Homo sapiens: one gene and its partners. The protein of the gene in region 1 purifies or fractionates together with the protein of each later gene. This does not show direct contact. Each region holds a gene or a part of one and is shown in the gene's direction. Other genes may lie near its edges. The genes, in order: OTC, NDUFAF7 and MCCC1.

The links.
Region 2: the proteins of OTC (region 1) and NDUFAF7 purify together in Homo sapiens (affinity purification with mass spectrometry; one large-scale study listed by BioGRID and IntAct). This does not show direct contact.
Region 3: the proteins of OTC (region 1) and MCCC1 purify together in Homo sapiens (affinity purification with mass spectrometry; one large-scale study listed by BioGRID and IntAct). This does not show direct contact.

The regions. Positions count from the first base shown.
Region 1 is NC_000023.11:38,407,971-38,411,627, forward strand, and holds part of OTC (ornithine transcarbamylase, mitochondrial precursor), read left to right. Parts: intron 1-771; coding exon 772-825; intron 826-905; coding exon 906-1,055; intron 1,056-3,657. UniProt on the Homo sapiens protein: Catalyzes the second step of the urea cycle, the condensation of carbamoyl phosphate with L-ornithine to form L-citrulline. The urea cycle ensures the detoxification of ammonia by converting it to urea for excretion.
Region 2 is NC_000002.12:37,245,001-37,248,657, forward strand, and holds part of NDUFAF7 (protein arginine methyltransferase NDUFAF7, mitochondrial), read left to right. Parts: intron 1-1,051; coding exon 1,052-1,195; intron 1,196-2,455; coding exon 2,456-2,629; intron 2,630-3,134; coding exon 3,135-3,350; 3' UTR 3,351-3,657. UniProt on the Homo sapiens protein: Arginine methyltransferase involved in the assembly or stability of mitochondrial NADH:ubiquinone oxidoreductase complex (complex I).
Region 3 is NC_000003.12:183,068,440-183,072,096, reverse strand, and holds part of MCCC1 (methylcrotonoyl-CoA carboxylase subunit alpha, mitochondrial isoform 1 precursor), read left to right. Parts: intron 1-739; coding exon 740-887; intron 888-976; coding exon 977-1,098; intron 1,099-3,657.

The DNA.
Region 1 (3,657 bases):
CTGAGCAAGCGAGGCACCTAGGGTGCAGAATTTGTGCATGCATGACCCTGAGAATGTGTGTTTCTTTACATTTTTTCTAGCGCCTCCTTAAATGTTTTGCCCTAGGCACCTCGCTTGCCTCTCCAGAGTCTGACTCTGCCCTCACCAAACCATCCCGGACAAATATATAATCTTAGCAAAAACAATGTATTTGTTCTGTCAATGCCTTTCAAAACAAGCACCCTGCCCTCAAAAGGCTTGCTGGGGAATGCAAAAGAATGAGAGGTGTGTAATGGGGGAGGGGGAGCTGTTAGTATTTAGCTGGGATGGTCAGGGAAGGTTTTTCTGAGGAGGGGACATTTCAACTGAGACCTGAAAAAGTTATCCACATGGAATGGGTGGAAGAAAGAATTTCAGACAAGAAAGGATAGCATGTGCAAAGATAGACAAACATGCATTCATTTGCACACTTCTGAATATAATCCTCTTAAGCCATTATGGAAACCGGAAGAGGTGCTTCCAAGAGTTAGAAAGCACCATGCCTTATGTTTGCCTTTATGATTAAAGAAGTCGGAGATAGTGAAAGCTGGGGCAATTGGTTGTCTCTTTAAATTCCAAAAGGCACTATTGAGTTTTGGAATTCTAGATGTAAAAATCATATTCTACTGAACATGGTGGGACCACATCTTGAAAAAGGGAAGGAGACGCGATATTGAAAAGAAAATAATATATATTTAAGAAAACATGTATAATAAAATTACCTAAATAAGATTTAAATTCTTCCTCCTTTAGGGTTATGAGCCGGATGCTAGTGTAACCAAGTTGGCAGAGCAGTATGCCAAAGAGGTATGCTCTTTACATGTAAAGCTATTATTGCCTTTTACTGTCCCATGAAGTTATTTAACCAGCGTGTTTATGTATGCTAGAATGGTACCAAGCTGTTGCTGACAAATGATCCATTGGAAGCAGCGCATGGAGGCAATGTATTAATTACAGACACTTGGATAAGCATGGGACAAGAAGAGGAGAAGAAAAAGCGGCTCCAGGCTTTCCAAGGTTACCAGGTTACAATGAAGGTACAAATTGATGCCTCTCTGAAGGTTCATTAATTCCATTCATGAAGGCCAGAACCATCTAATCACTTATTCACTTTAGGGGGAGCAGACTGTCCTTTCATTCCCTATAAAAGGACTCACTGACTGTATCCCCTAGGGACTTCTCTCCTTCCAAAGATTAGCTGTGTCCTTTGGAAAGGCATTTTTGTGCTGGATGAAGGAATTTGAAACCCACTGAGAAGAGAGGAGCAGGCTTTTCCCTCTCACAAGAATCGAGGCATTGCAGTGTTTTACTCTTTGTGTGTTTAGAGAAATTAGGTTACTTCTGATGCATGCAGTTTCTTATGATTTCTCCCCTAAGAAAAGCCCCTTAACTATGCTCCTCAGGCTAGTCCTTGCCTCTATTTTCCAAGGACCTCTAAATCCAGTTTAGTTTTGCTAATGCCCTCCAGGGCATTCCCAGGGGACTCATCTGTTTGGCTGTCTTCCAGTAAGATCTGGAACAATGCTTCTCAGTCTTGAGCAGGTATTAGCATCACCAGAGGAGTTGTTAATACACAGCTGGCTGGGTCCCACCCCCAGGGTTTCTGATTCAGTAGGTCAGGGTGAAACCTGAGAATCTGCATTTCTACCAAGTTCCCAGGTGATGCAGTGCTGCTGCCTCCAGGGCCACACTTTGAGAAGCAATGTTCTGGAGGAATACCCTGAAAGCCAAATGCACAGGGGTTTTGTCAGCAAAGCAACAAATCTACTTTGGTGGAGAAAGGGATTAAGCAAGTACAATTAATATTATATTGATAAAGTAATACATAAATACAAGTTCTTTATTGTTATATATAAAATAGAACAGAAGTTTGAAAAATAAAAAGTAAAAATGTCTTTCTCCCATCTCTTTAACAGAGACTATTCCTAGAGGTAGCCTCTGTTTAATAATTTGATGTGTCTCTTTGCAGACCTTTTCTGTGCATTTACATATGTATGCCTCAATACACACATAACTATTGATTTTTTTGTAAATGATATTTTAGACATTACTTATTTATTTATTATTATTCTTACTTTTTCCACTTAACAAATCTTAGATTTTCTTGCTCACTCATTTAGATATTTTTTATTCTTTTTAGTTGCTGCATAGAATTCCAAAGGATAAGTGGAACCATAATTTACTTAAAATGTTTCCTATTGATAAATTAGGCTATTTCTGAGAATGCCGATTACAAAAATGCTGCAATGAACTTGCTTATCCATATTTCTTTGTGCAAATATTACTGGAGAATAAGATCCTGAGGAGAGGAATTTTGGGGTGAAGTGGTATAAATTTTTTAAAATATGAGAGTGCTGCTAAATTGCTTACCCAAAGAAGATTAAAAATGTATACTGCTGCAGCTGTATATTATAGTTATTTTTCCATATCCTCTCCATGTTTAGCTTTTATTTACATTTTTAATTTTTCTAAATCTGGAGGAAAAATGGCACCTCATCTTTGTTAAAATTTGCAATTCCTTGATTACTAATGAAGTTAAGCATCTTTTTATGTTTATTGGGCATTGCCCTTTTTTCTATAAATTGCTATTACATTTTTTGCCCATTTTCTATTTTTTTGCCTTTTCTATTATTGGTTATAGGAGCTCTTTATATATTATGGCTAATCCCTTATCATGTGGAATATATTTTCATGGAGATATTTTAAATTATATAAATTGCTTCATACTTACACTTGCTTGGCCAATCTTATATGTGTTGCTGGTGCTGGAACTGTAGGATTGAAGAACAGTCATTTTGTTGATGTATGGCATTTATAAATGTTACTTTTTTCCATGTAATTTTGCTGGTATTTTAGAAACTCAAAATGTCCTGAACCTAGAGCTTGGGTGGGAGGTAAAACAAAATTGTAGTACAAAGGCAGTAATTTTGAGGTAAGAAAGTATGAAGGAATGTAGTTTTGAATCTGTATGTGAACAATAGAAATATATAGGGAAATGTAACTTTCAGCAATTAACTGTTGGAGAAAATTAAAACTGCTAGTACATTTGCATTAAGAATGAAAAATCTAATGCATAGTGCTTATAATCCTGTTTAATTCACCCCTACCTCATTACCTTTATCTAAATTGTTTTAACTAGTGATGGAGTATGCTTCAAGTGCTAAAAATAATAATTTGGAGATCAGCTCCAAATATAATATTATCACACCAAAGCAACTTTTTAAATATAGTGGACTATAATTGGTGACTTTTGCTATCAGCCACATATTACATTAGTAGAGTTCTTTACTGAAAGGTCTACTGTTCCACTAAATAGAATAACAGAAAACTGAGTTACTGGTGTAACTTGAAGTGGTACTCTCTTAAATTTAAAAAGAAAAAAAAAAAAAAAAGACTTGCCAGACACGGTGGCTCATGCCTGTAATCCCAGCACTTTGAGAGGCGAGGCGGGCGGATCATTTGAGGTCAGGAGTTTAAAACCAGCCTGGCCAATATGGTGAAATCCCGTCTCTACTAAAAATACAAAAATTCACTGGGCATGGTGGCACATGCCTGTAGTCCCAGCTACTCAGGAAGCTGAGGCAGGAGAATTGCTTGAGCTCTGGAGGCGGAGGTTGCAGTCAGCCGAGATTTTGCCAC
Region 2 (3,657 bases), on another chromosome or scaffold:
ATGTCAGCATGATCAGCGTGTCCACTGATGCCTGATGAGGCTGACTTCATGGTTTTTATAGTTAAGCCACAGTAATTTGATTGCACTATTAGCTAAATGGTTAGTTATATTTAATCCTCACAATAAACCTACAATATCTATAAGGAAGAAAACAACTCAGAAAGTTTAAGTAACTTGTCTACCAGTAAGCATAGGAAGAGCTGAGATTTAACTTCATCTGACTCTATGCCTGTTACCATAGGCAGACATCAGGGCAGGTCATTACTGCATTTCTATAATAAGGTGTTAGGAAGGAGTACAAGTTAATGTATGTTTTCATAATGAAGGGAAAGAAATACCACATTTTCAATCAGATCAGGAAGTAGTGAAATTTCATATATACTAGTCAGGTTGACAAGTGTTAATACTTAGTGTGATTTTGCTTTTTAAGCTAGTACACACTTATTGTGGCCCCTTAGTTAAGTGGACATCTTGGGGTAATAACGGTTTCAATACATTGGCACTAGTTTATAAGCCAGCGTTTCTTGATGTAGGGCATATCATTGGGATACTTTCTGGCACAACAGAGGGCATGATAATATAATTGTCTAATAGGGTCTGCTTCGTGTTATTGGATTTATACCATTTGTTCTTTCAGCACAATATTTTCATTGACTGTTATGTGCCTGGCACTGTTCTAGGCAGACAAAAAAAATCCCTTTCCCATGCTTTCAACCTAGAGGAATGTGTTTATATGATTTGTGATACAAAAGTAATTTTACATTAAATGATAATGCTCTAGGCCATCTGGGGGGATTGGGAGGGCATTTGCCTTTTTATAAAAGAGATTAAAATGTCTTTGTATATCAAGTGGGATAGCATCAAAGAACTAAGGAGTTTTGTATAATAAAAAGGGAGTCAGGTGAAAAGTTGAGTGTAGAGAACATACTCATATTAAGAATTTATTTTTATTAAAACTAAGAAATGCTCATTGAGGAAAAACCTGAAAAACCGTAAGGAAGTCATTCTTTTGAATGATGCATTTTGACTCTTGCAATGATCCCTTTACTAGCATGACGAAACAAGGGATCATGTTGAAGTGTGTCCTGATGCTGGTGTTATCATCGAGGAACTTTCTCAACGCATTGCATTAACTGGAGGTGCTGCACTGGTTGCTGATTATGGTCATGATGGAACAAAGACAGATACCTTCAGAGTATGTATAATTCAGTAACATGATTTATCAGAATTTCAGTGTTAGATCTGAAGCCCATTGAAGAGCTTTGATTTCTACAGTGCCTGGTATTGTTGTATTACATTATTTTATAGTTAACATTAATTCATGTTATTGTAATTCCCCTTAACCCTAGTTCTTACTGCTAACACTGAGTCTACTGTCCAGCCCTCCTTTAACAGGATCTGAATTGTGTACATTCTTCCTTAGTTGTAGAACCTATGTTTATATAAATCCAGATAAGCAGCTGAATAATACAAATGGAAAGATTTTCTTCACATTCTTAAACCTATCTGTAACCCCCTTCATTCAAGAAAAATTTTGGTACTTCTTTACAGATTTAAACTACCTACTGTAATCATTCTAGCTTTTTCTATCATATTTTCAACATTTTTTCCCTTTCCAGATGTATTCTTTTACACTGTTCCTAAACATCCTTTCTTAATGATCTTTGAATATAATCAATTCTATTCAATATACTTTAATTGAAAAACATTTAACTAAATGCTCTTAGTCATTTTCTAGGTCTGTGGTTCTTAATTTCTAACTTTATCTAAAAATAACCTGGATAGTTTGTTGAAAATACTCATTCTCTAGCCTTACCTCCAGGATTCTGACTGACCAGGTCTGGTTAGGGTCAGTAATATATTCTCAGGTGATTTTTTTTTAAGTAATTTCAACTTTTATTTTAGATTTAGGGGGTACATGAGGCAGGTTTGTTATTTGTTACATGGGTATATTGCATTGACTCTGAGGTTTGGGGTACGAGTGAGCCTGTCACCCAGGTGGCAAGCATAGTACTCAGTAGATAGATTTTCAGCCCTTGTTCCCCTCCTCCTGTCTCCCCTCTAGTAGTCACCAGTGTTTGTTCCCATAAGTATGTTCACGTGTACCCAGTGTTTAGCTCTAAGTGAGATGTACATGTGGTATTTGGTTTTGTCCCTGCATTAATTCACTTAGGATAATGGCCTCCAGCTATGTCTACGTTGCTGAAAAGGACGTGATTTCATTTTTTTTTATGGCTGTGTAGTAGTTTGTAGTGTATCTCAGGTGATTCTGATGCATGGTTGATGCATATACTTTGTAAAACACTGCCTAGGTGTTCCCTGCCTAGAGAATTAATGAGAGCTCTATTCCGTCACCTCAAGCATTAATGTAAATATTAAATAACTTTAATATGATAGCATTTCTTTAATCTTAATAACCATAAAAGGGCAAAAATCTGATTTCTTTATGTTCAAGGGGTTTTGCGACCACAAGCTTCATGATGTCTTAATTGCCCCAGGAACAGCAGATCTAACAGCTGATGTGGACTTCAGTTATTTGCGAAGAATGGCACAGGGAAAAGTAGCCTCTCTGGGCCCAATAAAACAACACACATTTTTAAAAAATATGGGTATTGATGTCCGGCTGAAGGTAAGGTTTATTTTATTTCACTGTTATTAAGTACTTTCATAGTATTTCAAAAATTACTTTAAATAGTATGTTCACCTGGCCTTAATGCTCTTGTAGTTAGCCAATCCTTGGTATTCCAGTCTTTTCAGGTAGTATAGGATTTAGTAACTAGTCTGGTAAGTTTTATGCATCTCCATGGGAGGTAGCATTAAGACTTCCAAATAGTGTTTTTGTTTGTTAAGAAAACTGCGTTTATGGGTATGAATTTTCTAACTGTTCTTCTGAGAACACCTAAACCTTACTGTAGATCAAACCCCCTGAGGATATTTGTTAAAAATGCAAATCCTTAGGTTTGTTTCACACCAATCTACATTTTTAATAAGTACTCTATGATTCTCAGGCAGGTAATCAGAAGTCACATTTTGAGTGCTGTTTTATTGGAATATTTGAGAGTCATTAGTATTGCTGCATGTAACTAGGAATCCTGTCTTCTGGTTATTTTTGCTAAGAATTTTTTTCTTTTCAGGTTCTTTTAGATAAATCAAATGAGCCATCAGTGAGGCAGCAGTTACTTCAAGGATATGATATGTTAATGAATCCAAAGAAGATGGGAGAGAGATTTAACTTTTTTGCCTTGCTACCTCATCAGAGACTTCAAGGTGGAAGATATCAGAGGAATGCACGTCAGTCAAAACCCTTTGCATCCGTTGTAGCTGGGTTTAGTGAACTTGCTTGGCAGTGATATTTCAGCTTGGACATTTTACCCTTCAGTCGGCCCAAGAAATCAAAATAAAGGAAACACATTTCATATACTGCAGGTAACAAAAGTCAAAGTATTTTATCTTTTCACAGCAAGAACAGTCCATGTTGTATATAATACAACCAACATTATAGAACTTTTAGGGTTGTGACTGGCTTTGGTGCAAATGTGTGCTCAAGCTAATAAGTTATTGTGAAACTGAGTTTCCTTTAACTTACAAAGCTAGTTGCCATATTTCTATTTTATTTTAAAAAGTAAACATGCGGCTGGGCGTGGTGGCTCATGCCTG
Region 3 (3,657 bases), on another chromosome or scaffold:
CAGAAGTTTAAGACCAGCCTGGGCAACACAGGGAGACCCTGTCTCTACAAAATTTTTTAAAAATTCCAGGCATGGTGGCACGTGCCTGTGGGTCCAGCATCTTGGGAGGCTGAGGTGGGAGGATTGCTTGAGCCCAGGAGATCAAGGCTGCAGTGAGCTGTGATCACACCATCATACTTCAGTCTGGGTGACAGAGTAAGACCCCATCTCAAAAAAAAAAAAAAAAATTCAGCTGGGTATGGTGACACACACCTGTAGTCCCAGCTGCTTAGGAGGCTGAGGCAGAAGGATCACTTGAGCTCAGAAGTTTAAGGCTGTAGTGAAGTATAATTGCACCACTGCACTCTGGCATGGGCAACATTGTGAGACCCTGTCTCTAAAAAAAAAAAAGAAATAGTTTGTTTTACCTATAATATTTTAATTCTACCCTTCTGTTGTCATAGGCATAAGTTATTTATCTGTGACATAGAGAAATTCTATTGAGTTACAGAAAATACTTAATGTTTCTAATCAATATATTAGTATTTTGGGATTAAAAAATAGGGTGAGATGAGCTACCACATGAAATGAGGGAAACTAACTAATAGACATATTAAATTTGTATTATTTTGTCGTCTCAGACTCGATGTTTTCTTTAAAGAGTTCCATTGTAATTTATAGACTGGGCTATATTTATGTTTGTCTTGAATGAAATAATTTGTAGAATTTGGGGCATGTTGTTTTCTTTCCCACTCTAAAGCACATCCAAATCCATAATGGCTGCTGCTGGAGTACCTGTTGTGGAGGGTTATCATGGTGAGGACCAATCAGACCAGTGCCTGAAGGAACACGCCAGGAGAATTGGCTATCCTGTCATGATTAAAGCCGTCCGGGGTGGAGGAGGAAAAGTAAGATTGTGCATGCTTGTGTTTGCCAATTCAGGCTTGTCTTCTTTGTTTTATTTATGTTGTAGTCATAATCATCTTTTCTCTCTTAGGGAATGAGGATTGTTAGATCAGAACAAGAATTTCAAGAACAGTTAGAGTCAGCACGGAGAGAAGCTAAGAAGTCTTTCAATGATGATGCTATGCTGATCGAGAAGTTTGTAGACACACCGAGGTGGGTTGGCCTTATTTTTCTGACTCAGAGTTTAAAAATTAAATTATAAAAATAATGCATGCACATTCTATAAAATATAAAACTGTAGTAGTATATAAGTATATTATTACAAGTTTCCCAGTTCTGTCCTGTGATGTAACCACTGATTGTAGGATGGTATGCATTCTTCCAGCCATTTTCTATGTGAATAGAAACCTATATACATATACATACAGCAAACAAAATACATACCTAAGAACAGTGAATAGAATTTTTTTTTTTTTTTGGACGGAGTCTCTCATTCAGTTGCCCAGGCTGGAGTGCAGTGGCACGATCTCGGCTCATTGCAACCTCTGCCTCCCGAGTTCAAGCGATTGTCCTGCCTCAGCCTCCTAAGTAGCTGGAATTACAGGTATGCCCCACCATGCCTGGCTAATTTTTGTGTTTTTAGTAGAGATGGGGTTTTCCCATGTTGGTCAGGCAGGTCTCAAACTCCTGACCTCGTGATCCACCTGCCTCAGCCTCCCAAAGTGCTGGGATTACAGGCGTGAGCCACTGTGCCCGGCCAGTGAATAGAATCTTATACACTAATATTATATCACAGACATCTTTCCATGTCAGTAATTGTAGATCAGCCTCATTCTTTTTGTTGGTGACCTAGCGGTTCTATGATCTTGATATACCATTAATTCATTCAGTATGTTTCTTGTTGATGAAATTTAGGGTTTTTTTTCAATATTAGCAAATTATTGTAATAAATTCAGCTATATTTATAGAACTCTGTCAGTTGAGATGCTCAGGAAATGGAAGTAATTTTCTAAATTGAATTACAAGTGATATGCTGTTAATAGGAGCTAACACTTACATTGCACTTACCATGTGCCAGATTTTAAATATTTTACACATGCTAAATAATCTTGCTGTCCTTCTAATTCTAATATAATTCTTACAACAACCTCATTAGGTAAGTACTGTTTTCATTTTACAGGTGAGGACACTAAGCAACAGAATGGTTGTGTTGTGTTACTTTTCTGAGGTCACTCAGCTGTTAAGTAGTAAAGCTGAGATTTGAACCCAGGCACTTTGACTCCAGAGTTCATATCTAAGCCACTGCACTAAGCTACTTCTCTGGGTACCACTATAGCAAATGCAGTGTGAATCCCTATTTTTTTTTCTGGAATTTTATTTTCATGTTTGTTGTTTAAGATGCTGATTATAAAGTTTCTCATTTCATAGATTTTTATGACAATTGTTAAATTTTATATATATATGTGTGTGACCTGTAAGTCAAGTGAAAAGAATAATTTATTTGGGAACCATGACTGGAAAGAGATTTACCTTGAAGGTAACAGACTTGAAACTTCAGGCCCTTCTTTGACATTAATCTCTTCCAAGACCCTGACCTAATTTTGTATTTGCAGTTTTGTATTCTTCTCCTTAGAGAAGACCCCCAAATTGTTTTTTGTTTCAGGCCCTATAAAACAACTGTCCTGAGCATGGCATAGTAAATGAAATTCAATTAAGGCAAAAAAAAAGGGGGGGGCATTTCTAAGGTACATTGAAGGCTTCCTTTCAAGAAAGAATAGGCTAGCCATCCAAATCAGCATGCTCTTAAGTTAGAATTGTGGAGACATCAATAGCTTATTTCAGTAACTTATTTCAGAGACATCAATAGCTTATTTGAGTTATTATGTAACTCCATGCCTGCAGCATTTTTTGAATATGTAAGTTCTTTACTTATGAAATGTTAGCCATACATTGCGTCACATTATAATTTATTCCCCCAATAGCTGGAAAGCCCCTGGGAATCAAAGACCTGGTAGTATATACATTTTTATTTTTTGTATATATTGCCTGGCATACTACTTTCCTTGTAATAGGCATCAGTAATATTTTTTGAACTATAGAAGTAATATGAATACATTACAAATTTTTGGAAAATGCAGAAGATGGAAAACAACCCATAATTGTATTCTCCTAATTATTATTAATATTCTTATATACAGTCATGTGTTGCTTAATGACAGAGATACATTCTGAGAAATGCATTGTTAGGCAATTTCATTGTTGTGCACACATCATAGAGTGTCCTTACACAAACTGAGATAGTATAGTCAACTACACACCTAAGCTATGGTATAGCCTATTGCTCCTGAGCTACAAACCTGTACAAACGTTACTGTATTGAATACTGTAGGCATTTGTAACACAATGGTAAGTATTTGTGTATCTAAACATCTCAAAACATAGGAAAGGTAATGTATTGTGCTATTATGTCACTAAATGATAGGAATTTTTCAGCTCTATCATAATCTTATGAAATCACCATCCTATATGCAGTCTGGCATTGATGGAATGTCATTGTGTGGCACATTGTGTGACTCTATTTCTATTCTGTATTTCTAGTAATAACTTCTTTTTAATTGAAAGCAAGTTTATTAAGAAAGTAAAGGAATAAAGAATGGCTACTCCATAGACAGAGCAGCCCCAAGGGCTGCTGGTTGCCATTTTTATGGTTATTTCTTGATGATATGCTAAACAAGGGGTGGAGTATTCTTGCCTCCCCTTTTTAGACCATAT